Linked DNA regions of Homo sapiens: region 1 is linked to region 2. A link means that fine-mapping ties the variant in region 2 to the expression of a gene that starts in the linked region. Tissue or cell type: aorta. Region 2 holds a variant in brackets; the other region holds the start of a gene. All regions are shown on one strand. Distances are from middle to middle.

Region 1 (10,304 bases), 130 kb before region 2:
ATGCCAAACTAGATGACGGTGCTGAGTTCGGCATAGGTCAAGATGCTAAGAGGTTGGCAGAACTCAGGTCAAGAGAGTGTCTAGAGCAAGGTGACTGAAGGGAATGAAGAGAAATGGGATACGCTGAGTGATAAATGGAGTCAACATGCTGCAGAGAGCAAAGCACGATTAAAAGGACAATATGAGTTACGGAGAAGGCAGTGATTGAACAAGAGAAAACAAATGGTGGAGATTCGTGGACAGGAAAAGGATTGATGGAAGATTGAGCTTAGATAGAGCAGAGATGGAGCAGAAGATGGCACTCTCTTTTCCTCAATTAGAGTTTATTTATGTTCTAGAGATCATCTGGAGGCTTAAGAAGAAAGACTGTTAAAAAGAATTACTTGAATCATGGGAAGCTGAGAAGGGAGGATGGAAGGAAAGAAGGAAAGGAAAGGAAGAAGGGAAGGAAGAATTGACAGACGGAGGATGGGGGAAGGTTTTTGTTGTAAAATTTAAATTATATTCTCTGTGAAAGTGCAGCTAATGCGAAAACAGTGCCTGTCTCAGTAAAAATTCAATAAATATGTGATGGTTCATTGGCAAAATACTTATTTTGCATCTCTACCCTATGTAGGTTACTGTACTAGCTGGTGTGCACACTGCGGTAAGCAAGACATAGTTGGTCTTTGATATCTGGCAGCTCCCAATCTAGTAAGGAACATACGCACCAAGAAAATGCTCTAATAAATGGACAATTATTGAAATATGGAATGAGTACAATTAAAATGGTTATAAAGAAATATGAAAGGATGTAACAGAAAGTACAGCAAGAGGCTAACTTAGGCTGGGTGGGTGGTCACGTTAGGGAAAGTGCTTTGATTAGCAAAACTTATAGACTAGCAAAAGATAGCTAGTGAAGACGGAGGGAGGTCTCTCCAGGCAGAAGAAAGAGTCCGTTTGAAGATGCTGGGGCAACAAGAGCTTGAAGTATTTCGGGAACAGAAAAGAGATCAATATGGTTGGAATCAAGTGGTGGTGGTGGGGATTATGGGACATGAGGCTGGAGTGGAAAACAGTGGGTGAGATCCGTAAGATGATTGGATTTACTTACAACATTCAAGAGAGCCTCATATGTGCTAGACAGTTTCATACACATCATCTCATTTAATTCACACAGTGATCCTGAGAAGTGGGTACTACTTTCCCCATTTCACAAATGAGAAAAGAAAAGACCTAGTAGGAACTATAAAGTGACTTGACTCCATAGAGAAATAGCAAAGATGATTTCTAAACGAAAATCAACCAGCCTCTTGGGCCTCTGGCTTTTTCAACTACATTAGGATGCCTCAGTCAGGTGGCATAAATACAAGGGATTTTTAAAACAGAGTAGAGTATGGAGAAGGGGGAAGCAGGAAAGAAAAAATATTTCAAAACTACCTAGAAAGGCAAATATGAAAGATGAAAGAAGAGGAAGTATTTGCTAGAAAGACTGGAAAGGAGTTAGAATGAAAAAAATTTTGTATCAGTGGAGTCAAAGATGGGAGTACAGGGGACTGTAAAAGAGAAAGAATTGAATCAATAATGAAATATAACTGAACAAAGAGGGGAAAGGAGAAGGAGTGTGAGGGGCTGAGAGGGAGAAAAGTGGTGGTCATAGGACAGGGGACTCGAGTATGAGTAGGGAAGTTATAGTATACTGGGAATAAGTTGCATGCAAAGGGCTGAGGCCAGGAGGGGCATTCTGTGACAGACAGAGCAAAGATTTGGGAGCCAGGCATTCTTGTATTTCACCACTTGATAACTCCATGACCAAAATCAAGTTTCTCAGCTTCCCTGAGCCTCCGATTTCATACCTATAAAATAGGGATAAAAAGCCTTGCTCCAAATGTTGCTGAGATTATACATCAAAGCAGTAGTTATAATTTATTGAGCAGCTATTATGTGTTAAATGCTTTGTATAATTATTTCTAAAGCCTCACAACCACCATAAGGCAACAGTTGTTATCATCATTCATTGATATGCTACAAAAAGTTTTGGATCACAGAGCATGTGTTCAGAAGTATAAGTCATTTCCTGTGGACATTCCAGATTTGACACTGTCTGTGATATAAAGTTGGTACTCCTTGTCTGCCTTTTCTGTCTTGTCTTCAGTTACTCCCTCTCCCCCTCACTGAGCTTCATTTCCCATCATACACCTTGCTGTCTCTGCCCTCCCTTTGTTTCCACATTCTGTGTTCTCAGCCAGGTGTTTCAGTTGCAAGCAACAGAAAGCAATCCTGAATAATTTAAGCAGAAAGAGAATTCAGAATTCAGTTAAGTGATTATTAGATTCCTTAGAATCTCCAGAAAGGCATGGGATCTGGGTTTAAAGTGCATGAAGTCAAGAGCACCACTCCAAATCATAGCACAGAACTGTATGGGTGAAGATATGTTTCAGCTGCAGCCAAGCATAAATAAAAGGCACTTCACACTGTTGACATTGATATCACTGGGCTCCAAACAGTGCTATTAGAACCTTTTCGACTAGCAGAGACACCTGGATGTAACTGCCCCAACTATTGCCCTTTTAGCCGCCACTGGATTCTGCCTGATTCCGGCTTATTTTTCAGCATCTGGGGTGGGTGAATCTAACTGGTGAAGCCTGGGTCATGTGCCCAAGCTCTAGCTGCAGTGGAGGCTGAGAAAGTATCCAGAAATGTTAGCTTCTTCATGGGAGGTGGGCTGTGCCTTAAAAGATAAAACATTCTCTGATGTAGGAAAGGGATTTATTCATTTACTAAGCAGTTGCAAAGAATGCCAAATGCCAACTTTAACCTAGAATGCCCACTCCCTTGTTACTAATCTTTATGGTTCAATTCCAAAGCCACCGCCTCTGGGAAGCTTTCTTTGATTTCTCCAAGTACCTCATCTTAGGAAACACATGTCTGCCTGCCTGCCCATTACCTGAGATATTTATGTGCCTGTCTCTTTCCGGCATCCCACCCCCTCACCCCAATCATTATAAGCTTTCCAAAGGCAGGAGTTGTGTTTATCCATCCCTGCATCTCCATATAGCACCTGGTAGGCACCCTGAATATTTGGTGATGAATGAATGAATGAATGAAAGTGTTGGTCTCATTTGACAGGCCTTTGTACTAGAGGTCCATGAAGGACTTGCACAGACTCTGCCTTACATAAGGGAGCCCTTTTTTCCTGGTGTGCTCTTCTGTAAATGGACTATGTCAGCATATTTGAAGAAAGGGGCATAGAGAATCAGAAAGCCCCATTGCGGTGGATAGTGGCGGATTGTAAGGACACAAAGGAGAGACTGAGGGAGGCAGGGTGACATATTTTGGAGGAGTAAATGAACTAGAGCAGGCATCAGAGAGGCAGGAGACCATTTAGAATTAGAGGACTTGAAAGGCCAGATTCCACCCCAACCTCCACACATCCTTTGGGTTCACAGATTAGTAAACTGAGACAGGAGAAGTATACCTTACAAACCTCACAGGGAAGTAGATCCAACTGTGCTTATGCAGATTTACCTTTTACAGCATCTTTGATGGGTGGGGTTTTCCAAGGTCACTGAGGACAGTGTAATTTAAGGGAAACAGTCAAGGCTTGAAGCCTACTGTTCAAACCTCAGCTCTTCAGCTCATTTGCTATACGACCTTGGAAAATCCCTTCACCTCCCTGACCACCTGATCTCAGTTTCCTCACATGGAAAATGGGAATCATAATATCCATCTTTTTGGATTATGGTCATGTAAAAAAGCTAACATACGTACATGTCTAGCATTTGGAGAATGCTTTAAACACATTAAGTCCAAGGTCGCAAAACAGCTTTTGCTTTTTTCCTTATTTTCAGTGCTCTGCCTTTATCCAACGTTATTAAAAAATATATGATGAGAGAGGAGAAAAGCAATTTATATGAAGGGTTAAAGATAGAAAAGGGGAATGAGACAGAAGAGGGAAGAGCTAAGAGAAAAGTGAATGCATAGAGACAGCACAAAAGGTGCAGATGGGTAAGCTAGACAGAGATGAGAAGTTGCTCACAAATTATAGGAAAGAAGCATTTGTAAGATTAAAGTCAAGATGAGAAGGAAGGAAATGAATGGAGAGATGAAACAGAAAACAGAGACAGGGAAGATGAAGAAAAGTAGGGGAGTGGGGAAGGGGCTGCACGGCACTTGACCCATGCAGAGGTGTCCGCTCCCTGGAGGGTCTCAGGTATGTGGGTCAGAGACAGAGTCAGCCCAAGACCAAAGGGTGCTGAATCTGAGGACCTAGCTCAACTTGAGTCTAGAAAGACTGCAGGTGAAGAATTGGTGAGCACTCCCGTTCTCTGGGACTTGGGCAGAGGATCTAAAAGACCCGGGAGCCAAGGACAGACAGAATAGTAGGTCTCTACCTCACACCCTTTTCAGGAATTTCACACAGAGAGCAGAAGCAGCCAAGTAGAGCTGCTCCAAGCTGGGAGCAGGGATCCAAAATAAAAAAGCGTGAGTGGGCTGGCTTGCAGGGCGGCAGCTAGGGGGCCAGAACAGCCCGGCTTCAGTCAGTTGTGGGGTCGGCGTTAGACGGTGGAGTTCGACGCCCCTCTGTCCATTAGCAATTAGTGCTAGCACAAGGCCTGGATGGAGGGGAGAGGAAGGTTTGCGGGCAGTGGGAGAATGAATGCAGGAGTTGTGGCCAAGTGGGTGGGAAGGGGGCTCTGAGGCTACAGGAAGTTATTTCAGAGACTAGAAAAGGGTAGGAGATTGGAGAAAGGACTTGTTCTTGGGCCTGAGGGGAGACAAAGTTAAGTCTTGGCTATCCAGGGGGCTCCCTATCCCCAAGAAGGCGGGGCCTTGAGCAAGGCTGGGCCAAGGCGCGCCCCCAGGTGCAGCCTCTGGGTTGAGCCGAAGGTGGGGTGAAGCCAGGAGAACTGGGTTGAGTCAGGGGGGCTTGGGGGGGCCCGAGGGGGCCCTAAGTATTAGGAATTTGGGGAGTTTAGGGAGGGGTGTTGTGGCTAAAGAATGCTGTGAGGGCGGAATTGGGGGATCTTGGGAAAGGGGAGGGAGCCACTGGGACTTGCACGAGGCCGGGCGGAGCCTCCGAAACGCTCGGGGTCTGCGGGGGGAGCCGGAGATCGGGGACGGGCGGCTGGGCCCCGGGAGGCGGCGCGGGGGGGCGGTCCAGGGCCGATCGGGAGGCGGAGCCCGGAGCTGGGGGCTGCTGGCGAGCGGCTCTCTCCGCTCCTTAGCTCGGGCGTCCTGGTTCGCTTCGGCGTCCGCCGTCTCCGCAGCTGCCTCCTCTTCCTCCTTCGCCACCGCCGCCACCGCCGCCGCCGCCCGCAGCACCGCAGCCCCTCCCGCCATGGCCGCCGCCGGCGCCCGGCTCAGCCCCGGCCCCGGCTCGGGGCTCCGGGGGCGGCCGAGGCTCTGCTTCCACCCGGGGCCGCCGCCACTGCTGCCGCTGCTGCTGCTGTTCCTGCTCCTGCTGCCGCCGCCGCCGCTGCTGGCCGGCGCCACCGCCGCTGCCTCGCGGGAGCCCGACAGCCCGTGCCGGCTGAAGACCGTCACGGTGTCCACACTGCCCGCCCTGCGGGAGAGCGACATCGGCTGGAGCGGCGCCCGCGCCGGGGCCGGGGCTGGGACCGGGGCCGGAGCCGCCGCCGCCGCCGCGTCCCCGGGCTCTCCTGGCTCTGCCGGCACCGCCGCCGAGTCGCGCCTCCTGCTCTTTGTGCGTAACGAGCTGCCGGGGCGCATCGCGGTGCAGGACGACCTGGACAACACCGAGCTGCCCTTCTTCACCCTGGGTAAGGCTGGGCGCCGGCACGCGCTAGATCCCAAGGAACCCCGAGCCCCTGCGTCATGCCGGACGGGTGGGGGCGCCCTGGGGATCCCTGCCCGGGGCTGCCCCGAGTGGGGTTGGCAGAGGGTAGAGGAGGGGCCCAGAGGTCGCACAGGTGGTTGGAAACGAGCATGTGGGAGGAGGTCCTGGAGAGCGCGCGGCGGGAGCCTGGGGGCGTGCCAACCCTCCCGCAGTGGGAACCTGCCCCTCTGCCTCTCAGTCCCGACCTGGAGCTCTGCTTGATCCATCCCGGAAGCCGGAGACCCCATTCACTGAAGGTGCTCTGGCTAGGGGCCGGAGCATCCCAGATCCTAAGCCAGTTTCAGGTCGAGCCTCCCACTTCTCCGGGTACCGTCACTGGCCACCCGCCGTCACCGCCCCCTCGCTCTCGCCTCGGAGTTGCGGGTTCTGCCCTTCCAGATGGATTTTCATGAGAGTAGGAATGGAGTAGTTCCGTGTGGAATCGCTCAACCCGCAAAAGCGTGGCTTCCGCATGGGCTGAGTGACCTTGGCCAAGTCGCTTCCCTTCTCTGAGCCTCAGTTCTGGCCATCTGTGAAATAGGGCTGGAGAGACTTGAGTGGTTGCTGAGAACTGGGATTCCGACTCCGAGGTCTCCACGTTTAGAGCCTCCCTCTACCCCCGTTACCGCCTTCCCTTTCTACCCACCTCCAGGCAGAGAGCCGGTTTGTCCTTGCAGCTCACTCCCTGGGCTAATAATAATTACTTAAAGGCAAGAAAAAGGAGAGGAGAGGAGATGGGTGTGGGTGGGGGGCTCCAACGGAAAAGTTAATCAGAAAAGTTCGCCAGCAGCTTGCTGCCTGCTGGTTCCCTGCGCGAATCCCGGAGGAGTCGGCCCTTCAGTGGAGCTGTGGGAAGCGCAGCTGATTTCCCACCCGGGTAATTGATAGCTTAATTATCTCGGAGAGCGTTTACAAAAATGTTGTTCCCCTTAGCTCTCCCGCGCTCGCTGCTTGCTCGCTCTCCCCTCCCCTCTTGGGGGCGCGGGGCCTTATTGGTTGTCGGAGTCTGGCCAACAACAGCGCCCGTGAGGCGCCAGGGGCTCGCCCAGACCCGGAGCTCTTCTTCCCCGGGTCTTTTCCTCGGCGGGATCCGCCTCGGGCACCGCAGGTGAGGGGCCTTCCAGGTGAGAACCTTTACGATCCCTGAACTTCCGAGGTTAACTCCTTGCTCGCCTGAAAAGACCCACAGAATAATCAGCGGACTACGCTCCACTCTCCTGGTAGCCCTGATATTGTTAAAAGTATTTTTGTGACCCACTCCCCATCCTTTCATGCTACCACCTCTGGGGATTTGAGCGAGTGCCAGTGGTTCTCCCGCTCTGAGCTTGAACCTCGGGGGTCGAGCCCCTGTACCCACCCTCGCAGGCTGTAACCTGAGCGTGCCGAGCGTTCCGGGAGGAGAGGCAGCGGAGCGTCCTGCAGGTTCCTCGGGGACTCCCCGCGGCGGCGCTTCTGGGGTGCGACGCACCAAGCACACACACACAGACACACACAAACCAGTAGCTCTTCCCACGTGCACCTGTGGGGCTGCCCATGTCCGAGAAAGGGAAGGAGGGTGGAGGTGGTGTTCCTTAGAGCGCCGCCGGACTAACCTCAGGCTCACAGCTGGCTCTTGCCACCTCCCCGTGGGGAAGGGTCTTTCTAGAGACACAGAAGGTATCCCTTCACTACCACTTCCATTCCTGACCTTCTCCCTTCATCCTTTAGATCTCTCTACTCCGGGGTACTCTGAGAGATGAGGGGTGGAAATCCTCCCGCCCCCCAAACGGCCATTCAAGTGAAGGGATGAGACGGTCCTTGGGTATGGCCTGACTTGGCAGTGAGGACCACAGAGCATTTCAAGTCTTCGAGGATATGGAGGACCTGCTCCAACCATCTGTATAGGTGCCCCGGGATTCCTGGAACTGACAATCTTTGCCATTTTTAACTTTGGCTTTCAAACAGGATGGGTGCCTGTGAGCCTGGGACAAGCTGAGTGAGGACCTGAGCGAGGAATTAGAAGTCTTGATTCCCCCAGGACCCATGTGTTGCTTGAGAGTCTCCTGGCAACAACCTGCACATGGAGACTTCCCCCTCCTCTGATGCACGGTCCCTGAGCCTGGCAGCTTGGGACCCTCTGCCCCTTGGAGAGCACGGGGCTGGCCTCCTTGGCAGCGCTGAGCCTTTTGGATGCATGCGGGGGATTGGGTTCTTGCCTCCTCCTTTTCCCCCTAGCGCCCTGGGCTGGCAGCTTTAGGCGCTCTCAACGGGGATTTGGCTAGCGAGGTAGTCACCAGATGGCTGGGTATAGCAGGAGCTGTGTAGGGAGACGTGGGATTTTTATTTGTGTTGGTCTTCCACTGTTTGTGTGTAAACACAGAGTGCACAATGAGTTCTGGGAGGACCTAGCTGGCCGGAAATGAGAGTTGGTGCCCGCTGGGGGTTGGGGGGGGGAGGGGTGAGGTGGGGGTGGTGGTAGGGGTGGGGTTGGGGCTGATACTATGAGACATTTATGGCCATCTCTTTCTAGTGTCCCAAGGCAGCCCCATCCCATCCCCAGACTTTTAAACATCCTGCCTAACGTTTGTCTCTGGCGAGTTGGGCAGCTTTCACTATCAGCTTATCAGTTCAGGGGATACGGACATGGCCAGTGCCACAGCTGAGCATGCAAAGTTGGTAAATGCCAAACTCTGCCAATAGTGGGGAGTGTGGAGCTACCACTAGGGGGTGATGGTGTCCACCAAAGCCCTCTGGTCACTTTGGGTCCTGGGACCAGAATTAGTGGTGGTAAACCATCCCTGGTATTAAAGGGGGACAAACAAAAAGAAGAATTCTTAGTTTATTCAAACTCCAGTGGGGGACCTCAAGGTAATTTTGCATGCACTATCTCCCATCTGCGTGCACCAAGGTCACCTTCATATTTAACCCTGGCTCCCTCCATTCTGCCTCTTTTGTTTCTGTTATTGGTAATGCCCAGACTGGAAGCAAGTCTTTTTTTTTTTTTTTTTTTTTTTTGCAGATCCTTTCCTTTTTGTATTTCTAGTCTCCCTATCAAATTTCAGCCTGCCTTAAGTAAATGGAAGTTTCCTTCAGTTGTGAACTATCTCCAAAGTTTGTTTGCCTGGGATTCTTCTTTAGAATCTGATTATAAGTCAATGACATTGACAAAGTGAATCTCCCTGAAAGTGATCAAAGAATAGCAAATAGTTATTGAATCCTTAATGTGATGCTAAGAGCTTTCTTCCTGCCTTGTATTATTAATTTACATAACATATATGGAGTGGGCTCTACTGTTACTCCCATTTGCCAGATGAGGAAGTATTTTTAGAGAGGTCAAACGCGTAATCCAAAGTCATGCCAGGAATCAATGGCAGACCTGGAACTGGAATCCTGGTCTGCCAGACACCTACATTCTTGTAGGTTGCTAAACTGGTATTCTGAACCAAATATGAAGTTTATGCAGGTTATGGTGCTGAATAGAGAGGGATAACAATCATCAAGATTGTTAGACAAGAGCTTTTCTCCAAAGGAACTTCAGCTACCTTGGTGAGCTGACCTATGTAAGTTTGAAACTGAAATATGAGTTAAATGACATCCAATGACCCTTCCAGCTCAAAGTTTCATGACTCTTGGATGTCAAAGGGCATTTTATTTATTGGTGCCAATGAGTGATGGAGATGATACATTCTGTAGCATCAGGGAAGGAAGGCATCTCTGTAGAATTGGAGAAGACTGGGGGCACTTTCTGGACCAGAAAGAACCTGAACTAGGCCTTGGAGGATTTAATAGGCAAAATGAGGAAAAGTGGAATGCTAAAATGCAGCTTAGAAATTTAACGCTGGTTAGGATCTGGAAATCTCAGCTTTGGCTCACTGTGACCTTGAATAAGTCATTTATCCCCCAGAGCTTCAATTCTTTCTGCTGCAATATGAGTGGGTAGATGAGCTCTAAAATAATCCTTTCGTGTAAAGATTCTATGAACTTGAAGTGCCCTGACCTACTCCATGACTCTGATAGCTCCTCTTGCTTTGTACTGTCTGTTTTCCTTTACTGGTAACATGAGGGTGGTGGGAAGGACTGATAGAAAAGAAAGAATTTGAGCAGGAACAACTGCCAGCCCAGGGCTTCTAAGGTGAACCTGTATGTCATTCAGTCCTCACTTACCTCCAGGCAGCCCCCGGGGTCTGCTTGTGGATTTAGCTTTCATGCCCACAGGTAGGGAAATGTCATCCTTCTTGCTGTGCTTGATAGTGGTCAGGCAAGACTGTTTACTACCTGCTTTGATTCAGCAAAAGCAGGAAAAAGCAATAAAATTGAATAAGCACTCATTGTCAACATTTTTTAGTAATTTGCTTTGCCATATCAACCTGACAGGAGAGGCGTGTGATCTGTATTTGGGGGAGGGAGTGTGAAGAAAGAAAAGCTATTCATTAGTCTGTGTTAAGTACACCTGCATGCGTAGAGCTGGCGGGGTCCCAAAGGACCATCCCAAAGGCTGCTTTATGCA
Region 2 (10,304 bases):
ATGATTATGAGCTCCCTGAAGGCAAGGCTATGTCTCATTTAACTCCGTGTTCTGAGCTATTGAGCTGCCTGGGATTGAGTAGGTGTTTGATAAGTATGTTGAATAAATAAACAAATGCATGAATAAATGAATAATGAGTGAATGAATGATCGAGGCCTTCTGCTTCTGCTAAAGCATTTTTCCCTTTAACATTTCATACCCCTCCTCTCTCCTCTTCAACAACAGTTTCTTTTCTTTGTAATAAAGTAAGTCCGGAGTTATTCTCTGTGATTCAATATTTACTGTGTTTCACACACTGTTATTATCATTTAACGTTTACTGTCTGCTGATTGTGCACTCATCGCTGTAGCAAACAAAGAGCTCAATCTAGTTTTGGTTCATGGGCTAATTTAGTCAAGAGAAAGGAGATGTAAGTGCAACTGGCATAGTAGAAATTGCATGGACTGGAAATCCACTGGTTCTAGCTAGGTACAAATTCACCAGTGAACTTAAGTCACTAACCTTCTGAGACCTTCTGCTTTCTCATCTGAACATGGAAAGGGGAAGCCTCTTTAATAGTGGGATTTCAGGCACAGGCTGGAGAGAGTGCTAGGAGCAAGGAGCTCAGATTTCCACAAGCATCCCTCTGCTCGCTCCGCCTTCAACTGTGCCAGGCTGTGTCAACCAGATGTAGCCTACCTTGGAGCTTTCTTCTGGTGCCATTCCAGGGACTCTCAGCACGTGGAGTGCCTGCCTAGCCAGCAGCACATGGAACTACTGAATTAGACACTGCTATTTCTAGTGCAGCTTTCAGCCCTGGGTTCCCTGGACCTCTGGTTTTAGGCTTTGATGCACTGAGAGAAAAATGAGCCAGACCATTTACCATAATGTCTTCACCTTGCCTTGGCCCAGCTGGCTGTCTGCCAGAGAAGCTACTGCCAAGGCCTTGGGTGCTAAGGCTGGGAGGGGGTCAGTGGGGCAGCAGATCACCCCAGCCTGGGATGAAGAGAAGGTGCTGAGAGGAGACCTACCACTCAAATTGATCACCCAATCAGCCCCTCCCCAGAACGACAATGGGTTCTCAGGGCCTTTGGGGCCTGTGCTCTAAGTGCTGACAAACCTTCGTGATTATCTCAAGGCCTGTTCAACTCTTCCAGCTGCAAGGGAAGCCCAAGCATGTGTTTGCTTGGCCTAATAACTTACTATGTTCTCACCACTTTGTCTTTTACTTGGAATGAGTAGGAGGCCATGCAAAGACTGTAAATGGAGGGCTTAGTGATGTGAGATGACTTTTGCTTGGCAGGATTCCTCTGGCTCCTGGCTGAGAATAGAATGGACAAGGGTGGAAGAAGAGAGTCAAGTTAAGGAGTCCTTGCAGTAAGCCAGGCAAGACAGCATGACGCCTTGTCCCATGTGGCTGATGTAGAGGGACTGCAAAGGGTTGAATGTTGGATGACTTTGGAAGGATTTTCTGATGAACTGAATGAGGAGTGGGAGAGAAAGCAAGCTGTCAAGGATGGCTCATGGTTTGTTTGTTGTTTTTTTTCTTTTTTTTCAGAGCAGCTGAAGGATGAATTAGATCCTGTTCCTATCAATAATGATGATGATGATGATAAATCAATATCTAACTTAAAAATTCGTAGCTAACATTTTTTAGCCCTTATTAAGTGCTAAACACTCTTCTCCTAAGGATTTTTGATTGTGAACCTCAAGGAGGGAGAGTCTATTGGGCATTGATGATATAAGAATAGTTCAGTGGAATTGGGTGATGAGTAAGTGATTTGGTAGTATCATCTCCTCTTCTTTTCAAGTTGATTCTTTTTCATTCCGTGTCATCAGATATGATGGGTGCTGCAGTGGGACATGGAGAGAGCTGATTGGATAAGTTGCTGTAACTCAGCTTGCCTATCAGCTCTCCTCGTGTGTGTGTGTTTGTGTGTGTGTGTGAATGCACTCGAGGTCTTTGGAGACTGTAGGAATACTGCCTCAAGGTCATAGCTGTCTCAGGAGGGAGGGGTCAAGGTTCTAAGCCTCTAGCACCACTAAGACTACTTGTCTACTGATGGACATTATAAAGGCTATTTGTCTCCTGTTTGTCTCCCTTGAATGCAGACCTAATAATCCTCCAAGAAATCCACCACCCTTCTCTTGTATTCATGCATAAGATTCACTGATAGGCCTTGTCTTTCTAGGACATTTGCAGGCACATACACCTTTAGTCAAGGGGACTTTGGAACAATTGTACAATCCCCTTGCAATGACACTTTCATCATCTTATGCCATGACCCTTTTTTACTAATAAAAAGGTATGATACATTGAACAAAAATACTATTCAAATGATAATCACTTTAAAAGTATTTACAGAAGGAAAACCAGCATAGAGATAAGAGTTAGAAACTTCAAGTTGGGAGATTGAATTTTACAATTTACTAGAAAGTCCTCACTCCTCACTGGCTATATGAGAACGTTGGGATGGGGCAGTAGCTTTGCCAGTATTTTTAAGCCAAGGAAACTTTATGCCAACATTTCCTTGCTTGGGAGTGCAGTATATACCTTACAAAAAATGGAGCTGCTCTTGTGGAAGCAAGAGGAACACGCTCAGGGCAACCCTCTTGGCAAGCTCCTTTCCCATGCAAGATGACCCTGAGCTACCTCAGCTGAGTTGGTGCTCTCTTGGGCCTTTCTGGCTCCGAGGTTTGGCCATGAGTACTTCCAGCTCAACTTCTAAAGAATCCACACTCTCAACTCCCACTCCTTTCATGGATTTCTTTCCTTCATCTTCTTCTAGTTCCATAGCCACAAAAGAATGAAAGCACTTTTATCCTTAGTTTCATTCCACTATCAGAGTAGAATGAATTACCTGATCACATGTGATGTACTAAAAACGGCCTCAGACAGATGTGGGTGCAAACCCTGCTTCCACTACTCTGTTACTTTAGGTGAATCTTGGTCACAGTTGACTCATCTATAAATGAAAGTGATGATCCCTATCTCATAGACTTGATGTGAGGAAAGGTATCCTGGCAAAAAATGGATGCCTTCTGAGCTCCTGATTATGTGGGCTCTTTTCCTCCCTGGAGCACCAAGGCCAGGCGTACGGCTCACCCAGTGCCTCGGGTCTTGTCTTGCAGAGATGTCTGGCACAGCAGCGGACATCTCGCTGGTGCACTGGAGACAGCAGTGGCTGGAGAATGGCACCTTGTACTTCCACGTCTCCATGAGCAGCTCCGGGCAGCTGGCCCAAGCCACCGCCCCCACTCTCCAGGAGCCCTCGGAGATTGTTGAGGAGCAGATGCACATCCTCCACATTTCTGTGATGGTGAGTGATGGGGGGATGTGACCGGGGTCGGGGATTGCGTGGGGGAGGAATGGGTGGAGAGATGGAGGGGGCGGGGGATTGTCCACAGATGGAAGGAAAGAACCAAACTCAAGAGGTTAGAATGAGAAACAGAAAATCAGATGGATTCTGTGATGTCACTTGGACTGATGCATACCCATCCATCATCTGTCAGCTGTGACAAACTAATTGTGCTTCAGAGAAGAAAATAAAGGGTCTCCAACTCCTCGGCCTTTTGGCTGACATCTCTGGGAATAGCTGTTTAACATCTGTCATGTGCTTGGCCTGCTTTGCTGAGGGCTGAGGTTTGGTGATTCAGAATACAACTGGCCATTCCAAGAATGACTGAACAAACAAAATTGGAATAAAACCAGAACAGGCTGCCTTTTCCTAAGTACCCTTGATGTGTCAGGTGTTTTAACCCTTGCAACAACTGCATGGTGGCCCTTGTAGCTGGGCTGGACGTAGCCATTGTGGGGGTCCACAGAAGCCCCTCCATAATTCTCTTTATAGTTGTGAATACTGTGGCTGAGGGGCAAAGAAACTTACCTAAGATCACATAGCCAGCGAATGATGGAACTACTCTTGAGTGTTCAAATCCAAGCATATCTGGCTACTAAGCCTGAACTATGTCCTGTACACCCTGTTTTCTCTCAATTCAAGAATTTCTTGAGTATCTACCATTTGTTAAGCACTATACTGGATACATGTATGGAAATTATCTCATTGTGCTCTTGCCAAGAATGGATGAGGTCCAGCGAATCACCTCCACATGTTTGCAGAGAGAGGATGTGGCTGTTCAGCTCTGTTGGCCCCATGATACAGAACTCTGAGTCTGCTGCCTCCACCCAGAAGGTTACTAGGGCTGGAATCACTTGAGTGGTAGTCTAAAAGTATCTGGGCTTATATTATATGCTTTCTTTAAAAAGCTATATTTATTGGCATTGCATGGTAGATAGAAAAACAAAACCAGAAAATAAATCCAGTAGGTAGAAAGCACAGAGTCTAATGGGCTCAGGAAGAAACTTCACATCTTTCTGATGCTTTATATTCCTCAAAGCCCCTCTTACATTCACTTCTCCTTTTCTTCTTTAGTACGGCTCTGCCAGATACCCAAGGTTAGGAAATGGTATCTCCAACATACATATGAGGAGGCTATGGCCCAGAGGGGTGAAGTGATTGGCATAAAGCCACTCAGCAGAGCAGAGCTACCTCTCAACCCTCATTGCTTCCTTCAATTTAACAATCAGCAGTATTTTTTGAGACTCCACAACGGAGCGACCTTTAGTTTTAGTCTCTTTCTCGTTTCTCTTCAACGAACACTGTGCATTAGACATTCTGATTAGGGCTGAGTAAGATCTTAGAAGTTTTCTCTTTTTGGAAAAACACATACACTCCCCAGCCAGACAGCAATGTTAATTTTGGACCTTACGCAT[G/T]CTCATCACGTGGAGGAACAAATCAAGGCCTTTGTGTTATTCATGGAATGAGTGTGATAGACTTTTTCCATATGTATATTTAGCAAATGATGCAGCCTCACACCAAGCAAGTGGGTGCCTGCATGCTAAGTTTGGGGTGCAAATTTATAAGCACCATCTCAGGGCACTTGCTGAGTTCCTCATGGGGTGTGGGACACCATCTAATGTTAGGAAGAGGCGGAGGGGTGTGAATGCTCTTCTTCCTTTAACATTTGAGAGTGAGACTCAATTTTGACCAATGTTCATTAAACATTTTCTGTGTTTCAGCACATTTACTTGCATGTATCCTTCTTGTAACCCAGTAACCTGGATAGTATTATCTCAATTATAAATGAGCCTCCAATGTGTCTTTTTTGCTTCCAGGTCCAGTGTTAGTTTCACTGAATCAGACTTTCTCCCCAGGATGGTAGGTTTTCCTCAACTTTCCCTTTTGCTCAGTGAGTTCAGCTTCGAAATAATAACTCACTAAGACCCAGATGTCACTGAAATTCCCTGTAGTTCCAGATTTGGCTGGCAGAGTAGGTAACGTGGAAGCTGGCACCCTTCAGACCCTCCCCACCCATGAGCCAAAGTGACCCAAGGCTACCACCGTGTGGTCCAAAGTTCCTTCCCCCATTCAGGGCTCCATAATCTGGATCTCTCCTGTCCCTGCCCTCCCCTCAGGGAACAGAGTCATGTCTTGGAGACACTGAACCCCAGGGTGTTCTTCCTCTGAGAGGTGGGGCATGCCAATAACACTGCTCTCTCTAGAGGTAGGAAGACAGCCATAAGCACAGACTTGGAGCACAGACTTGAGGTCTCTCTCTGACACTGAACTCGGGTATGAGCCCTTTGTCTTGTTTTTGTCATTTATAGAACAAGGATTATACTAATAGTTATGTAGACACAACAAGTCCTCAGATCAGAGGAGCTTGGCACTTAAGGGTATTTGCTTTTGTTAATAGGGGCAGTTTAGTTGAAAAACTTGAGATGTGCTGATTTATTATACCCTTTTATTCCATAGTTGGATACTGAGGTCTGGGACAGGCTAGGACTTGTCTAAGATCCCTCAGTCAGTCAGCAGGGCTTGGCCTGGAGGTCAGGCCTCTCTGTGGCTCAGACTCTACCCTTGTCATTCTGGCCACAGACAATGCAGCAAGAACAAAAAGAGTGTTTACATTTAAGATGGCTGGGATCTGTCTCCCCATTTCACAACTGAGAAATCTGAGATTCATGAGTTTAATTGATTTGTCTAAGTCTCCTGGGCTAACAAAAAGGCAGTTCTGGGGCCAGGATTTCCCCAGGATTAAAACTTGTGTCTGGCAATTCATGACATCATGGCCCTGACCCTGCTGGATACACTATTGTTTTCATCTTTGGTGAAGATCCAAGGTGGTTTGTGAGAAGACCCAAATCTTCTAGTCAAATCTCAAAGAAGTCTGGAGGCTAGGGTCTATGCACTCCATCCCCTTTTGACAGCACAGATATCCTGCTCACCCATGCAGGGAAACCAGCTCCCATTCAGCCACTGGAACCTGCTACCATCCATGCCTCCTGGGGTGGAGCCATCATGCTTTGTAGGCTTGTGAAGGCTAGAGTCGAGCATCTACCTTGTCCCAAAGGTTGCATCATCTGAATATTAATATCACAAAAGGTGATGCAGCAAGGAAGTACTCTGAACCTAGTCCAGAAAGTGAGAGTAAACAGTCATCTCCTCTTGTCCTCTGCCTCAGCTTCAGCATACCCTCCTCAGCTGTGCAGGTGGCAGGATGCAGAGAAAAAAAGCAGAGCGATGGAATTCAGCAGACCTGGCTCTGAATATAGTCTCTTCTACTTCCTGCTTCCTGGTAATTTTACGTTAGGCACATCCCTTCATGCCTCTGAGCCTCAGTTTCCTTATGTATGAAACAAAACTGATCATACCAATCTCACAGAATTATTGAAAAGAGTGGAGAAAAATTATTGAAAAGAGTGGAGAAAAGAGTGGAAAAAACATACAATGGTGCCTAATACCCAGGCTGGCACATACTGAGTGCATAGTCACAAATGGCTATTAATATTGTCATTGAAGCAATGTTTAAAGGACTTCAACTTAGGAGTAAAAAGACATTGGCTTTAGTCTTATATTTGCTGCTATTTTGCTGCCTGATCTAGAGAAATAATCATAATACCTGACATTTATTTTGAGTATTTACTGTATGCCAGGCAGTGTTCCAAATTTTGTTCTCTGCATATTATCACTTTCAATCCTCACAACAAACCTTAAGATGGATACTGTCCCTCACATGAGGAATCTGAAATGTTAATAAATACCTATCTACGTGACATTGATCACACAAAGGTTAAGTGGCAAACCCAATTTTTCACTCTATATAAGCTGGTTTCAGAAACTATGCCCTTAATCTATATAACAGGCCACCATTTTCCTTCTCTATGCATCCGTTGTTGATTTAAATTGATAAGATTTCATGAGTGAATTCTTACGAAGACTGTACCCTATGTGGAATCCATGGGTATTTTATGAGGGTTTATGACTTGGAAATCAACTCCATGGTTGAATAATGTCTCTATCACTACCTTTGTGTCCTTGGCCAAGTTACCTTCATCATTTGTAAAACTGGAATAATATTCCCCAATACTTAGAGATTTTTTTTCTAGGCACGGAATGAGATCACACTCACAAATGCCCTGCACAATGAAAATAATGACTGCCACCACTGAGAACTTTCTGTATGCCAGGCACTAAGTGCAGCACCTCTATTATTTCATCTAATTGTTCCAATGCCTCTATATGATAAGTAATGTTGTTGCCCTTCATTTACAGATGAGGGCTTAGGAGTTAGTGGGATTTTTGCATCTTGCCCATCCACATCACCAATAAGTGCTGAAGTTGAGATTCTAACTCTGGTCTGTCCAAACTGAGAGTCTGTGTGCTTGGGCACAGTTCTGCATGGCACAGTGCCTGACATTCTGTAAGTGCTCAAAAAGCAGTAGCCGTTATTAAAATGTTAGCTATAGTGAGGGTTATCATGTCTGTTATTTTATAGAGTATTCACTCCAGGTGCACAAAACATTTGATAGAAATTGGAAACTTGTCAGTTAGGGAGAGGAGTTGCTCATGCCAGCATTTTATAGATAGGAGAAAAGAAATCCAAAGCAGGCTGAGTGATTTGACTACAGGTGCAAAGTCAGAGGAAAACCATGGCTTGAATCCTGGGGTGCACTTTACATTGTTTATCAGAACAAGCTATTATGGGCCCCTAACTATTTGCCAGCTAAGTTTGTGATCTACATATGCAAACTTGCAGGATAAAGAAAGAGGTTCTTTTAGTGTTGGTATCCTTATTTAGAAAGTGGGAAGCCAGGATTGTCTTGATCTCCGGACCTCGTGATCTGCCTGCTTGCAGGCAGGAGGCGGAGCTTGCAGTGAGCCAGGATCACGCCACTGGACTCCAGCCTGGGCAACAGAGTGAGACTCTGCTCAAAAAAAAAAAAAAAAGAAAGTGGGAAGAGTTTATCTGCTTCACGCAGGCATGAGGAAATGCAATAGGTCCTAGCAGATGTGATCACAACTTCTTGTTTCTTTTTTGCATTTATTTGTTTTTTTCATTTTGCTTTTTGTTGCCATTGCCATTGTCACATTGGCATTTCAATATATATTTCACTTTTGCATAGATCAAAGTTGCTTTCAACAAAAATAGTTATCACTTGTGGTTCAGAGGGTTGGTCATATAATTCTACTCTTTCCTCCTCTCCCCCTTTTTAACAGTGAGAAATATAATTTCATTTTAATGTGATGTGTCTTGTTTTAAAGATTTCCACAAGAGTTACTAGATAGAAACTGTTTGAGACCAATATGTTTTATCTTGGCGCTTTTGTTTTTTCCCTTTTGTCTTTGTGGTGACAAAATGTTTTGAGAAAGGGGATGAAAAGAAATGTTTGGTTTGATGTAGGAGAAGAAAAGAATTTTGAGGGCATGTTTCTCTCAGAAGGATCATCCCAAAGAAAATGCCACGGATTTGTATTGCTGGCCTCCAATGAGGGAGGATTCAGGATTCCAAGAGGTCAAAATTCTCATGCACGACAGGACAAACACTTCAAAGTGTCTGAGCTATCCATCGGTGGAGTAGGCCGAATCAAGAAGTTGTGGGTTTCTTCTCCCTGAGTTTGTGCAGGCAAAGTCACTGGGGTTTAGAGAGGAATAATAGTTAAATTAGATGACTATTGTAGTTGCCTCCAATTTAGATGATCTATGACTCTGTGATATAATAACATAGAATAATACTTTGAGGAATATAAAATGTCACACAAATCTAAGAAATTATTACTACCATTCTTATTCAGTAGCTTTGTTTAGAGGATCGGTGTGATATTGGGATAACACTTTTTAAAGGTTTCTGTAAAAGATGGCTTTATATCATTGCTCCAACCGTGACGTTTTTTCATTCATAGCATATTCCTTCATTCATTGATTTAATCATTCAATCATGGAATGGTTTACCTGCCTATTAAATCTAGCAATGAAAAGCCTATCTGCTAGAAAAAAAAGAGATAGAAAAAAAAAAAAAAAAGCTTTTTACAAAATCAGCCACCAGCTCAGATTGAGCCAACTATGGGGTCTCATTGCTGAAAGTGGTCTTATATTTTAAGTTGAATTAATAAAAGGCTAGGTTTCTGAACAAATAATTCTAGAGGTACTGGGCGAGAACTGAAATATTGTGTTTATTTTTGGGGCCATATCTTAAGAGAAACAGTAACTGAGTAGAAATAATAACTGAGTAATCAAGACATTGAAGAATCTTAATAATGCTAACAAGCACTTTTACAGTGCTTAGTGTGATTGTACTTGACATGTATTTAACTCATTAAATTCTTACAGTAATCTCAATAGATATTATTACTCCTGCTCTACTGTTGAGAAAATAAGCACAGGAAGTATAACTAACTTGTAAGACCTGTGACTCTGTGTGTTCTGAGGTTCACATTCTGGCTCCATAACTGACTTGGTAGTAGTGGGATTTGAGCATGTACTTTCTCTGATGGAATTACCTGTCTAAAGAGGGGCTGTTGTGAGAATCATCAGAGATGATAGATATAAAGCACATATGCTGGAGCCTGACACACAGCCCTGGTTCTATAAATGTCATTACTCTGCTACTTATAAGTGCATTAGCTTCCTAGTTTGCAATAACAAAGTACCACAAACTGAGTGGCTTAAAAGACAGACATTTATTATCTCACAATCCTGGAGGCCGGAAGTTTAAAATCAAGATATCTGTGAGACCATGCACCTTCTGAAGGCACCAGGGAAAGATCTGCTCCAGGCTTTCCTTCTAGGTTCTGGTAGTGCCTTGGCTTATGGCAGCAGAACTCCATCTTCACATGGCATTCTGCCCATGTGATGTCTGTCTCTATGCCCCAATTCTCCCCCTTTTATGAGGACACCAGAGGCCAGGTGCGGTGGCTGAAGCCTGTAATCCTACCGCTTTGAAAGGCCGAGATGGGTGTATCACCTGAGCTCAGGAGTTTGAGA

The links. PIP is the estimated chance that this variant, and not a neighbour inherited with it, causes the effect.
Region 1: ASTN2 starts here. The variant in region 2 is fine-mapped to the expression of ASTN2 in aorta (GTEx, PIP above 0.99).

The regions. Positions count from the first base shown.
Region 1 is chr9:117,409,955-117,420,258 of GRCh38, reverse strand. It overlaps ASTN2 (astrotactin 2), which reads left to right and starts at 5,202. Exons shown (of 23, transcript NM_001365068.1): 1 at 5,202-5,762. The coding sequence starts at 5,321.
Region 2 is chr9:117,284,321-117,294,624 of GRCh38, reverse strand. ASTN2 (astrotactin 2) reads left to right here. Exons shown (of 23, transcript NM_001365068.1): 2 at 3,112-3,299. Among named protein-coding and RNA genes, the nearest start is that of SNORA70C, 110 kb to the right of the region's middle. The variant G/T (reference allele first, on the strand shown) is at 4,754.